2 linked regions of the Homo sapiens genome follow. The protein of the gene in region 2 interacts with the protein of the main gene of each other region in a pairwise test. Each region holds a gene or a part of one and is shown on either strand. Other genes may lie near its edges.

Region 1 (6,866 bases), on a different chromosome or scaffold from region 2:
GGTTGTCTCAGCCCTGACGCCCAGTGTGCCCGAGGGTCCCGCCTGACCTTGGCGTTCCCTGCACCCCAGCTCATGAAGTGTGTGCGGCTGCCCTTGCTGAGCCGCGACTTCCTGCTGGGCCACGTGGATGCCGAGAGCCTGGTGAGGCACCACCCTGACTGCAAGGACCTCCTCATCGAGGCCCTGAAGTTCCACCTGCTGCCTGAGCAGAGGGGCGTCCTAGGCACCAGCCGCACACGTCCCCGGCGCTGCGAGGGGGCCGGGCCTGTGCTTTTTGCTGTGGGTATGGCCCCCCGCCCGTTTCCCTCTTGCCCTGTGCCTTCTACTCCCCACCAGCACAAGCCCACCCCACCTGTGCCGGTCAGGTCCTGACCTGCCCCTCCGCCCCTCCATTCAGGGGCCTCTCCAGGAGCCTGGGGTGTGGCCCAGCAGTGGGATCCACTCACGAGTCCCGTCTCCACCTGCCCTCCCCAGGCGGCGGGAGCCTGTTTGCCATCCACGGAGACTGTGAGGCCTACGACACGCGCACCGACCGCTGGCACGTGGTGGCCTCCATGTCCACGCGCCGGGCCCGGGTGGGAGTGGCTGCGGTGGGGAACCGGCTCTATGCTGTGGGCGGGTAAGCCTGGAGGCTGGACTTGGGTCGGGTCTGGCACGTGCCCGCCAGGCCAGTCTTGACCTGCAGTGGCTTAATTCCGCTAGCTATGATGGGACCTCAGACCTGGCTACCGTGGAGTCCTACGACCCCGTGACTAACACGTGGCAGCCGGAGGTGTCCATGGGCACAAGGCGAAGCTGCCTGGGTGTGGCCGCCTTGCATGGACTCCTGTACTCGGCCGGCGGCTATGACGGGGCCTCCTGCCTGAACAGGTAGTTGGGGTTGGGGCCCCAGTGGCTTTGTACAGTCCATCTGCAAGAGGCAAGTTTGTGTCACCATCACAGGGGTCGTATCTGATGGGGTGTTAAAGGAGGTGATCCGCGAGGCCGTTTCACCCCAGGCCACTGCCACACTGGGCCTGAACTCTTGGCTTTGCTGCCCCAGTGCCCTTTCCTCTCTCGGGTCCTTACCCCCAGTCCAGAGGCTGGGCCCAGGTGGGTGTGCACCCAGGGTTGTTCAGGCAGCCAGGGTCCTGTGCCCACCAGCGGGCCCTGCCTGGTAGGACTTTGCGGTCTGAGTTTGACTCCTAGGGTAAGATTTCAGCCATTCCGCTGGGGAGGGCAGGTCCTGGGGCCGGGACGCCTTTCTGTCTCTGCTGAGCTGTGGCTGCGGTCCTGGTGCCCACAGTGCTGAACGCTACGACCCCCTGACCGGAACGTGGACGTCCGTCGCTGCCATGAGCACCCGGAGGCGCTATGTGCGAGTGGCCACGCTTGGTGGGTGATGGGGCCTGCCTGGGGGGCATCCCCACCTTCCCCCACCGTGGAGACCCCACTCCCAGCAGGAGTGCCACGGGTGTGTTGACTTCCGGCAGATGGGAACCTGTATGCTGTGGGCGGCTACGACAGCTCCTCACACCTGGCCACTGTGGAGAAGTATGAGCCCCAGGTGCATAGTGCACCCCTCCTGGCCACCCCCTCCCGTGCGCCGCGGGGCCCTCCTCCCTCTGTTTACCCACATCCCCCCCATTCCTGACACCCCACCCTGGAGTCGGGGCTGCGGCAGAGGAGGGATGCCAGTGGCGGGTCTGCGTCCAGCCCACGCCCTCGCCCCCAGGTGAACGTGTGGTCGCCCGTGGCGTCCATGCTGAGCCGACGCAGCTCAGCGGGCGTGGCCGTGCTGGAGGGTGCCCTGTACGTGGCAGGGGGCAACGACGGCACCAGCTGCCTCAACTCGGTAGAGAGATACAGTCCAAAGGCTGGAGCCTGGGAAAGCGTGGCGCCCATGAATATCCGCAGGTCCGCAGTGGGGCTGCGGGGAGGGGGGCGCGGGTCCGCAGTGGGGCTGTGGGAGGGGTCCGCGCGTCCGCAGTGGGGATGTGCTGCGGGGAGGGGGGCGCGGGTCCGCAGTGGGGATGTGCTGCCGGGAGGGGGGCGCGGGTCCGCAGTGGGGATGTGCTGCCGGGAGGGGGGCGCGGGTCCGCAGTGGGGATGTGCTGCCGGGAGGGGGGCGCGGGTCCGCAGTGGGGATGTGCTGCCGGGAGGGGGGCGCGGGTCCGCAGTGGGGATGTGCTGCCGGGAGGGGGGCGCGGGTCCGCAGTGGGGATGTGCTGTGAGAAGGGAGTTCTCCCAACCTCAGCGAGCATGTCCCGCCACCACCCCTTTTTGTGGTGCAGCCCCTCCCCCCGCATCCCTTCCTGCAGCCAGGGGCTCACCCCGCCTTCCCCCCAGGAGCACGCATGACCTGGTGGCCATGGACGGATGGTTGTACGCCGTGGGGGGTAACGACGGTAGCTCCAGCCTCAACTCCATCGAGAAGTACAACCCGAGGACCAACAAGTGGGTGGCCGCATCCTGCATGTTCACCCGGCGCAGCAGTGTGGGTGTGGCGGTGCTGGAGCTGCTCAATTTCCCGCCGCCATCCTCCCCGACGCTGTCCGTGTCCTCCACCAGCCTCTGACCCACCTACCACCAGAGGCCTGCAGCCTCCCACATGCCTTAAGGGGACCGTGGCCCCCACCAGGGACGTCCTGCGCCATCCGTTCACGTCTCTGCATCCATTCCTTCATGTCTTTATTTAGTTGTTTATTTATTTAGTTATTTATCTTATTTATTGAGGGGTGAGGAGTGCCACGGCTGCCCGTTTACACCTTTAGCGTCTGGTCCTCCTGCGTGTCCTCCCCTCCACTGCCTGCATGGGGGGCGCGGGGAGTGACCAGGCGGGGGCCTCACCGCCCCAGGGCCGTTGCCTGCTCAGACCTTGCAGGCTGTGGAGCAAGAGGCCCTGGGTCTCTCCAAGCAGCTGCAGACCCCAGCTCGAATTTTGCACATGGCGGGGTCCCGGGAAGGGTGGGGAGCAGTTGTCCTTCCTGTCGTCGTCTGCCGTGTGCCATCTTTCCTGGATCTTGTAGTGGGTGCACACGCGTGCACTGGGACCCCACACAGCAATACGAGTCCAACTTAATAAACACATTTCTGGGGTTCCTCAGGCTGAGCATCTCTCTCTGGCATGTGGGGCAGCTGCGCAACTTTGGGTCCTGTCTGGGGTCCAGGGTGAGGGGTGTGGGGGGGTGCCCTGAGATGCGCAGGCATCTGGGAGCTGCAAGGCAGAGCTGTGCGTCCAGGGAGGGTGGGGGCCGTGCAGTTCCTGTGGACCAGCGTCCCAGTGTGGGTGGCGTTTGCCTGGGCTGGGTACTGAGGCCGAGGTCCCCGCCACATCGTGGGCTCTGGGGTTAGGGCTGGGGAGGACAGCCTTGCCCCCGAGTGCGCTGACTGTCTTGGCCGTCTAGGGGGCATGTGGCCTCCCTGAGTCCCCTTAAGCCTTGGGGACCCTGACTCGGGTCTGTGGCGAGGGGGCCCAGGCAGGAGGGGAGGCTGCGGTGGCTTTGGCCGCCGTCTCCTGTGCTGGAACTCCTGCCTCAGCCCTCCCTGCAGTCACCGGTGACTCGGGCCGGCCAGAGTTTAGATGGAAACAGGATGTGTGGGCACGTTGTCCCGGGGGGCCTGGAAGGTCGCCCCGGGTTCACCAAGCCGGAGCACAAGCAGGTGGGGTACCTCTGCACACTGGAGGCCTCGTCTGGGCCAGAGGGGTGCTTGCCCCAAGGCTGGCCTCTCGAGTGGAGGGCCCAGGGCAGAGACCTGCACGGCTCAGGTAGGGGCCAGGCCTCTTCCAGAAAGGCTCCACCCTCGCCCAGGCCCTGGTGCCGGGCGGGACGTCCCGGAGCCCCGCCTGCCCGCGGGAGGCGGGGGCAGGAGGCTGTGGACAGGGACCCAGACTTGCCGACCTGTACGACTCTGGCCATGGGGAACAGCCACTGTGTCCCTCAGGCCCCCAGGAGGCTCCGGGCCTCCTTCTCCAGAAAGCCCTCGCTGAAGGGAAACAGGTGAGCGGGGCGTGGGTGCGGCCACCTGGGCGCAGGGCTCCCCCACCCGCTCCGGGGCCAAGCCACGAGACCCCTTGCCTTGTCCCCAGAGAGGACAGCGCGCGGATGTCGGCCGGCCTGCCGGGCCCCGAGGCTGCTCGAAGCGGGGACGCCGCCGCCAACAAGCTCTTCCACTACATCCCGGGCACGGTGAGCGCGGCGTGCACGGTGGCTGTGGTCTGGGAGCGTGGCTCTGCCCGCGCGTGTGTGCCGTGTGTCCGTGCAGCTCAGGGTCTTCCCCTCGCCCCCGGGGCGTTCAGACCCCGGTAGGTGAGGAGCCGACGCTGACTGCCCCGCCCTGGGGAGCTCATCCGGCCGAAAGTCTGAGCGGAGAGCGAAACCGCGACGCAGGACTGAGTCAGTCGGGAGAGAGCTGGGCGGGGCGGGCCGCGGGCGGGGCCTCCCGGGACCTCCTCCCGCAGGGGACCAGCGCACGTGTCTCTGTCGCTGCAGTGGGGCTTGGGGTCGTGCCGGCAGGTAGTGTCACTTGAGAGTAAGGGGCCTCAGATGAGCAGCGAGCCAGCCGGTCACCTACACCGGCCTTTCTCCCTGGGTGTCCCGCAGGAAGTTGCCGCTGGGTATGGCCGCCTGGTCCACAGCAATCCCTCTGTGCACGCGCCGGCCTCCTCCCAGCTTGCCAAGGCCATGCAGCAAGGAGGTGTCTCCCAAGCACACACTAGGCCACCTCTCCGTCAAAGGAGCAGAAGACCACCCCCATGCCCACCCCCCCCCCAGCCCCTGTGGGACTAAGGGTCTTCACAGGGTAGATCCCAGCCCCTTTCAGATGTGTCTGGTGCTGGGATGAGGGAACAGGACCAGGAACCTGGGCTTCAGGGCAGACAGGAACCCCCACTGCACCCCCGTCAGGCAGCCTGGATGGGTGGGCTCCGCTATGTGCAGGCCCTAGGAGCATCTGCGGGAGAGGACGCCTGCCCTGCACTCCTGGGTCCAGCAGCTGGCATGGCCGTGCAGACCCCTTTGCCAACATGCCCCCGCCAGGCAGGAAGCTCGTGCCATACCCTCTCCTGACCTCCAGAGTTTCAGGGCTCCCTGCAGACAAGTACTGGTTTCGGAAACCACGCTGCCTCAGAGGAGTGGGCAGGGAGAGGGAGCCGGGCTGGGTTAGGGGTGGGGTCCCTGTGGCTGCATCTCAGACACCACTCCCTCTGTCCAGGCCCAGGACATGCAGTGTGACCCTGGGGGGTCCTATGAGGTGTGGTGGGTGGCCGTAGTGGTCCTCCCTTGCCAGGACATGGTAGCCACAGAGGCAACAACCTGCTGAACCTCGGGAAATGGGGCTGGGGGAGGAGCTCTGGGCCAGTCCTAGAGCCAGTGCTCCGCGGCCCTGTACCTGGGCTCTGCACCCAGTGCTGTGAGCTGGCTCTACTACGGCTCCAAGCTGAGTCCTCCCCGGGGCCCCGAGGCTGAGCTGCGCTGCAGGGCCAGCTGTGTGGCCCTTCCTGGTCTGTGGCCTATTTTTCATGGGTGCCAACCCGGCATCAGTTCCCACGCTGGGTGTGGGTACAGGAGGCCCCACCCAGAGGCAGAAGGCCGGGAAAGCCATGCGTCTGTCTGTTCACATTCCTGGGCCTGCTCAGGGGCAGCTAAGCTTGGCCAGGGCACAGCAGCTCTGCAGGTAGCTCTCGCCAGCTCCTAGAAGGAGGAGGACACCTTCCCACTTGGCCCTGAGCCTGTGGATCACAGAGGTCTCCAGCCCCAGGTTCACACCCGTCCCTTTTCTGACTTCCAACCTGGTGATCAAAGCCTGCATTTGTAGAGGACTGTGTGTGCCAGGATTGACTACATGTGGCGTGGATGTGGAGTCCCCTCCCCTCTCAGCACATGCAGTGATACCCACAGCACATCCCAGGCCCTGTCTTAGGCTCTGGGGACACAGCAGTGAACGGAATAGACAACCCCTGTTCTGCTAGTGCTCCCATTCCCACGGCAGAGACACACGACGGGACAAATCAATAGATCCAGTGAGCGGGGTCAGGTCGGTGCTAAGGAGAAAAACAGAGGGGATGAGTGCAGAGGATCAGGGAAGGCTGGAATTTTAGAAAGGCTTTCAGAAAAGGAATTCTTGGAGCAGGTAATGTCTGAGCAAAGCTGCAAAGCGGGTAAGGAGGGGGGTCAGGACTGAGCGGTCCCCAAAGCAGGAACAGAACATGCAGCAGCCAGAGAGCATGGGTCTGATGTGAGGAGACAGTGAGGCCGGGGCAGCCACAGAGACCCCTCGGGGGAGACCCCTCGGGGCACTGCCAGGACCCCGTTGTCCCCTGAGTGAGGCATACGGAGCGGCCAACACACAGAGGATCGACCCCAGAAATCTCCTCACATATTTCAGGCTGGGGGCTGGAAATGGGCAACGGTGAGGACACTGACACCGAGGAGATTGGCAAACGTTACAAATCAGGGCATCGGTGTGTTTCTGTGTCTGTTTTTTGTAGAACCAGGTGTTAAGCATTTACCATACAATACTGCAGACGTGGGAGGGTTTTGAGTGTTACCCAGACACCCCCAAATTCTTCTAACAAGTCTTCAGAGGTTGAATAACCCAAGCCATGTTACACAGCTTAGGAAAGAATGAAGATGGGTTTAATCCACTGAGTCCAGATCTCACCATCTCTACCACTAGACCAGGCAGCTCTGTGTGGGGAAGTGTGTCTGTGTGTGCGTGTGTGTGCACAAGTGTGTATGTGTGCATGTGTTTGCACGTGTATATGTGTGCACACATCTGTGTGTATATGCACAGGTGTATGTATACGTGTGTGTTGGTGTATTTGTGTGTGTGTGGAAATGTATGCATGTATGCAGTGTGCATGTGTGCATGCATGTGTGTGCATG
Region 2 (7,019 bases):
CTCTGATTGTCACTTACACCTAGTCCCTCCTTAGATACCTGCCAGCTCTAGAGTTACAGCCAACTCTTTCTTCTCCTTCTTCTTGGTGTGGCCCAGGCATGTGGAGGAGGTGCTAAGCTCATTGCATCTGTCTGGATTCCCCCCATGGCTCTAGTTTGCAGGCCTTCCCTGGAAATCAACTTTGTCCCACCATTCTTTGGGTCACATCCTAAGAGGCCTTGGGCACTCTCTCCACCTCCTAGGCTTTCTGAGCTCTGGGCAGGGGGACACATGAGCTTCTTCCTGTGTTTCAGATGCAGATGGCAGAGCTATTGGTGTCCCATGGAGCTAGTCTCAGTGCAAGGACATCCATGGATGAGATGCCAATAGGTAAGTCCAGCACAATAGCTGGTGTGCACAAATAGGCAGTTATCAATGTTTTGATGGGTAGAGGGAGAAATAGATAAATATATGGTTGTATAGATTGATGGATTGGTGTCTAGATAGATAGATGGATTAATTAATGGATGGTAGATGAATGGACGGATGGACAGATTAATGGATAGATGGATAAATGGATGAATGGATGGTTGAGGTGGTAGATGGGTAGATATTATGAGGTCTGGTTGAATGGATGGGTGGGTGGGTGGATGGATGGATGGATGGATGGATGGATGGATGGATAGACAGAAAAATAAGTGGATGAGTGGGTAAAGGATGAATCTATGAATACATGGCTCAGTCAGCAATAGGTAGATAGATGGATGAAGGGGTTAGGTAGAATAGATGGGAGTATGTAGCTTTATTAGCATCTTTGCATAATTTATTGCTTGGGCTATGTGGGGTACCTGCTTGGGGACTCTTCTTGGAAACTATCAAAGAGCAACATGAATCCCTCGGTCATAGCTGGGAAGCTTAGGAATTGTGACTGTGCCCAGAACCTGGGTTTCCCATTCTTATAATCCTCTTATAAACACACTCACTCAACTTTGGCTGGCATTGTTTTCTTGCCTCCCTGCATGCCCTGAAAGATGCTTGGAGTTTTCAGTGGGTTGGGGTGGCAGCTCCTCTGGTCTGGAGCACCCTCTTGCGCCACAGGTCCTGGCCCCGTCCCCCACAACAGACTCCTCTGCCCCTTCAGACCTGTGCGAGGAGGAAGAGTTCAAGGTCCTGCTGCTGGAGCTAAAACACAAGCATGATGTGATCATGAAGTCACAGCTGAGGCACAAGTCATCCTTGAGCCGGAGGACCTCCAGCGCAGGCAGCCGTGGGTGAGTCCGGGGCAGGGCAGCCAGGAGTCCCTGTGTGTGCTCCTGCCTGTGGTGCCTGGGTGCAGCCTCTAGGACCCACTTTGTCCTCTCAGGAAGGTGGTGCGGCGAGCCAGCCTGTCGGACAGGACCAACCTGTATAGGAAGGAGTATGAGGGAGAGGCCATCCTGTGGCAGCGGAGTGCAGCTGAGGATCAGCGGACCTCCACCTACAACGGGGACATCAGGGAGACCAGGACAGACCAAGAGAATAAGGACCCTGTGAGTGGCCTCACGCCCTGCCCTAGTGTCAGCCACTGCAATGGGAGGAGAACAGGGCCCAGCCTGGCCTTGCCTCTTCAACTGAGAGCCTTCAGAGGGAAGTAGCCAGGCACTGCCCTTAAACTAGCATATCCAGTCTGATGATGATGGCTACTGTAGTTAAACCAGCAGATTCAGTCTGATGGTGGTGGCTGCTGTAGTTAAGGAGGTGATCGGGGAGTGTGTTAGAGGCTGAGCTGGGTGCTTTGGCACACAGGTAGGTCTCCTAATTGACAGGGGGTGAGTGTCCGCTATGCGCCTAGCTGTGCTCCAGCACACCTAGCAGTGGACTTCCAAGGAGAGAGCTTCAGTAGGGCAGTCACCCAGGAGCTGAGGGTGCTACAACTTCTTTTTCAGGAAATATAACAAGATATTGAGAATTGTGTTTATCAGAACATGTTTTTTGAAAAATGGAGTAGGATCCTAGTAGGACCTCTGAGAAGCCTGCTCCTGTAGCAGCCAATGGTCCTTTAAGCTTTAAGCTGCTTTCATTTCTGATGGCTGCTTTAAGAAATTATCACAAACTGGATGGCTTAACATGGTGGAAATTTATTCTCTCTCAGTTCTGAAGGCCAGAAGTCTAAAATCCAGGTAACACCAGCATTGGTTCCCTCTGGGGGCTCTCAAGGGGATTCTGTTCCACGCCTCTGCGAGCTTCTGGTGGCTCAGGCGTTCTTTGGCTCTTGCTAGCAATGATTCTAGTCTCTGCTTCTATCTCCACATGACCTTTTTCTTCGTGTGTGTGTGTCTGTTTTCTTTTTTTATTTTTATTTTATTGGTTTTTTTTGAGACAGGGTCTTGCTCTGTCACTCAGGCTGGAGTGCAGTGGCATGATTATAGATCACTGAAGACTCCAACTCATGGGCTTAAGCGATCCTCCCACCTCAGCCTCCCAAGTAGCTGGGACTATAGGCGGGGGCCATCACGACTGGCTAATTTTCAAATTTCTTGTAGAGATGAGGTCTTGCTGTGTTGCCCAGGCTGGCCTCAAACTTAGCCTCAAGCAATCCTCCCACCTTGGCTTCCCAAAGTACTGAGATTACAGGTTCGAGCCACTGTACCTAGCCTGTTTTTTCCTCTTATGAGGACACCAGTCATTGGATTGGAGCCCATGCCAATCCAGTATGACCTAATCTTAATTTAATTTATTACACCTGCAAATACCTATTTCTAGATAAAGTCACATTCAGAGATTCCAGGTAGACATGAATTTTTGAGGGACACTACTTAACCCAGAACCAACACACTCACTCAGCATGGCTGCTTTCTTGCTGAGTGGAGTGAACAAGTTTGGGGCTGGAGTGGAATTGCTGAGGATGAGGGAGAAGTTAACTGTACCAGAAGTGGTCTGCCATTTTCGTTCTTCCACTACACCACGAACAGATGAAAACATGCCTAGAGAGTTTAGCCTTGGTGGGATGAAATTGATTAGCTACCGAGCATGCCCACGTGTCTCAGAGGGACCCTGCTTCCCAGCACGAACAGTGGGGTCACCTACTGCCTGTCTCACCAGGAGGTGTGAAGGTGCCTGCCCAAGGGGAGGCCACATCAAAGCCACCAGCTGGTGATGGAGAGGGCACGTAGGGAAGATTTGTTCTGCCTGGCCCCTTAGTCTGAGGATTGGTGAGAAAAGAGATGTAGATCAGTATCAAATCACATTTCAGATGTCTCCCAGCTGTGCTTTATTTATTTTTCCTTTGTGATTGTGGTGTAACTTAAGTATGGTAAAGCAGACAAATCTTTTTTTATTTTTTTATTTTTTTATGATATGGAGCCTCGCTCTGTTACCCAGGCTGGAGTGCAGTGGTGTGATTTCAGCTCACTGCAACCTGTGCTCCCGGGTTCAAGCGATTCTCTTGCCTCAGCCTCCTGAGTAGTTGGGATTACTAGTGCCCGCCACGACGCCTGGTGGATTTTTGTATTTTTAGTAGAGATGGGGTTTCACCATGTTGGCCAGGCTGGTGTTGAAGTTCTGACCTCAAGCAATCCTTACCCACTTGGACCTCCCAAAGTGCTGGGCTTACAGGTGTGAGCCACCATGCCTGGCCAAGTAGACAAATCTTAAATGAGATTTTCAACAACCTTTTACAAATGTACACACTCAGATGAATTCATAGAGCATTTTCATCATCCATGTTCTCTCTCCGTCCTTTCCCCCACTCCAAATGTAGTCACTATTTAACTTTGAGTTCTAAAGATTAATTTTGTATATGCATATGAATGACCCTGCAGTTTCTTTCGTGTCTGGCTTTTTTTACATCTGTGAGAGTCACCCACGTTGTGGCATATAGCAGTAGTTTTTTTTTGTTTTTTTTTTTTGAGACAGGAGTTCACTCTGTTGCCTGGGCTGGAGTGCAGTGGTGTGATCCTAGCTCACTGCAGCCTTGACCTCTTGGGATCAAGCGATCCTCCCACCTCAGCCTCTTGGGTAGCTGGGACTATAGGCATGCACCACCATGCCTGGCTAATTAAAAAAAATTTTTGGCTGGGTGCCGTGGCTCATGCCTGTAATCCCAGCACTTTGGGAGGCCGAGGTGGGTGGATCACAAGGTCAAGAGATCGAGACCATCCTAGCCACATGGTGAAACCCCATCTCTACTAAAAATACAAAAATTAGCTGGGCATGGTGGCACGCGTCTGTAGTCCCAGCTACTCAGGAGGCTGAGGCAGGAAAATCACTTGAACCCGGGAGGTGGAGGTTGCAGTAAGCCAAGATCGAGCCACTGCACTCCAGCCTGGGGACAGAGCGAGACTCCGTCTCAAAACAAAACAAAACAAAACAAAACAAAATTTTTTAGAGATGGAATCTTGCTATGTTGCCCAGGCTGGTCTCAAACTCCTGGGCTCAAATGATCCTCTTGCCTCAGTCTCCCAAAGTGCTGGGATTATAGGCACGAGCCACTGTACCTGGCCTCATTCTTGTTTTTTTTTTCTTTTTCTTTTTTTTTTTTTGAGATGGAGTCTTGCTCTGTCCCCCAGGCTGGAGTGCATTGGCGCGATCTCGGCTCACTGCAACCTCCATCTCCCGGGTTCATGCCGTTCTCCTGCCTCAGCCTCCCTAGTAGCTGGGACTATAGGTGCCCACCATCACGCCCAGCTAATTTTTTGTATTTTCAGTAGAGACGGGGTTTCACCGTGTTAGCCAGGATGGTCTCGATCTCCTGACCTCGTGATCCACCCGCCTCAGTCTCCCAAAGTGCTGGGATTACAGGCGTGAGCCACCACGCCTGGCCGCCTCATTCTTTTTTATTGCTTTCTAGAATTCGATTGTTTGAATATTAAAATTTACATATCCATGCTCCTTTTTTTTTTTTTTTAAATTGAGACAGAGTCTCGCTTTGTCACCCAAGCTAGAGTGCAGTGGCGTGCTCTTGGCTCACTACAACCTCTGCCTCCCAGGATCAAGCGATTCTCCTGCCTCAGCCTCCTGAGTAGCTGGGATTACAGGTGCGTGCCACCACGCCCGGCTAATTTTTCTATTTTTAGTAGAGATGGGGTTTCGCCATATTGGCCAGGCTGGTCTTGAATTCCTGACCTCAAACGATCCACCCTCCTCGGCCTCCCAAAGTGTTGGTATTACAGGGGTCAGCCACTGCTCCTGGCCTCCATTCTCCTTTTGGTGGACATTTGGGTTTCTTGTTTCTGGCTCCTGTGAATAAAGCTCCTATAAACATTTTTGTACATGTCTTTTGGTGGACATAAGCACTATTTTGTGTTGGGAAAACACCCAGGAAAGCAGCTGGAGTCACGGGTAGGCATATGTTTAGCTTTAGTGGATACTACCAAGCAGTTTTCCAAGGTGCCTTGTACCTGTCTGCTTTCCCATGGCAGAGTGTTTCTTGCCAACCCTTGGTATAGTCAGTCTTTTTTTTTTTTTTTTTTTTGATACAGAGTTCCGCTCTTGTTGCCTAGCCTGGAGTGCAATGGCGCCATCTCGGCTCACTGCAATCTCCGCCTCCCGGGTTCAAGTGATTCTCCTGTCTCAGCCTCCTGAGTAGCTGAGATTACAGGCACCTGCCACCATGCCCAGCTAATTTTTGTGTTTTAGTAGAGATGGGGTTTCACCATGTTAAGGTGGGAATTCTCAAAGCATGGTCCCTGTACCAGCAACATCAGCATCACCTGGGAACTTGTTAGAAATGCAGACTTTGGCTGGGCACAGTGGATCACAAATCCTGTAATCCCAAAACTGAGGGAGGCTGAGGTGGGAGGATCTTCTGAGCCTAGGAGTTACTGGACAACATGGCAAGACCGTATCTCTACCCCCCACCAAAAAAAAAAAAAAAAAAAACAATTAGGTGGGTGTGATGGTGTGTACCTGTAGTCTTAGGTCTTGTGAGGCTGAGGCAGGAGGATTGCTTGAGTCGAGGAATTCAATGCTGCAGTGAGCTATGATAGCACCACTGAACTCCAGCCTGGGTGACAGAGTGAGGCGTGGTCTCTAAAAAAAAAATAAAAATAAATAAATGTAGATTCTCAGGACCCACTCCAGATGTGGCGATACTGCTGCACACAAGAATTTCAGAACCACTTATTTGAGGAATAATTTGTTCAGCCTGACCCCCAAATCACATTTCTTCCAAGGCTGTGCCCTGTTAGCCTTCAGGGATGACTTTGGTTCACTGTTTTTTGTTTTTGTTTTTTTCCTCTGAGACAAGGTCTCACTCTGTTGCCCAGGCTAGACTGGAGTGCAGTGGCGCAAACTTCGTTCACTATAGCCTCTGCCTCCCAGATTCAAGCAATTCTCCCACCTCAGCCTCCTGATTAGCTGGGACTACAGGCACCCGCCACCATGCCCAGCTAATTTTTGTGTTTTTTGGTAGAGATGGGGTTTCCCCATGTTGGCCAGGCTGGTCTCGAACTCCTGACCTTAAGTGATCCACCTGCCTTCGCTTCCCAGAGTGCTGGGATTACAGACATGAGCCACTGTGCCCCTTGTTTTTTAATCTGATGTTTAAGTAGCAGTACAGACAAACTAAATCAGAATCTCAGGAGTTGGGACCTCAGCATTGTATATGTTTGTCATTGGTGTTTTTTTTTAATTTTTTTTAGATGGAATCTTGCTCTGTTGCCAGGCTGGAGTGCAGTGGCTCAATCTTGGCTCACTGCAACCTCCGCCTCCCAGGTTCAAGTGATTTTCCTGCCTTAGCCTCCTGAGTAGCTGGAACTACAGGCGCACGCCACCATGCCCAGCTAATTTTTGTATTTTTAGTAGAGACGGGGTTTCACCATGCTGGCCAGGATGGTCTCAATCCCTTGACCTTGTGATCCACCCGCCTCGACCTCCCAAAGTGCTGGGATTACGGGCGTGAGCCACCATGCCTGGCCATGTCGTTGTTTTTTAAAGCTAAAGAGAGACTGTTTTTGAAGTGATTGCAGCAGTAAGTAGAATGCATCGACCACAGAATTGGCAAGATCTTGGAGGTCAAGGAGAAAGGAGTTCGTTTCCTAGGGAGGAAGACAGAGGCTGCA

Evidence for each region. Proteins that work in one complex are often made in the same cells at the same time.
Region 1: the proteins of PPP1R16B (region 2) and PLEKHN1 interact in binary tests that used the Homo sapiens proteins (3 or more experiments, as listed by UniProt).

Annotation. Positions count from the first base shown.
Region 1 is NC_000001.11:962,635-969,500, forward strand, and holds the start of PLEKHN1 (pleckstrin homology domain-containing family N member 1), read left to right. Parts: upstream 1-3,847; 5' UTR 3,848-3,897; coding exon 3,898-3,980; intron 3,981-4,069; coding exon 4,070-4,169; intron 4,170-6,866. Other genes in the region: KLHL17 (kelch-like protein 17), read left to right, coding at 70-283, 475-619, 703-870, 1,286-1,374, 1,473-1,546, 1,715-1,896, 2,329-2,557. UniProt on the Homo sapiens protein: Controls the stability of the leptin mRNA harboring an AU-rich element (ARE) in its 3' UTR, in cooperation with the RNA stabilizer ELAVL1.
Region 2 is NC_000020.11:38,906,686-38,913,704, forward strand, and holds part of PPP1R16B (protein phosphatase 1 regulatory inhibitor subunit 16B isoform 1 precursor), read left to right. Parts: intron 1-293; coding exon 294-369; intron 370-1,120; coding exon 1,121-1,250; intron 1,251-1,342; coding exon 1,343-1,508; intron 1,509-7,019. UniProt on the Homo sapiens protein: Regulator of protein phosphatase 1 (PP1) that acts as a positive regulator of pulmonary endothelial cell (EC) barrier function. Involved in the regulation of the PI3K/AKT signaling pathway, angiogenesis and endothelial cell proliferation.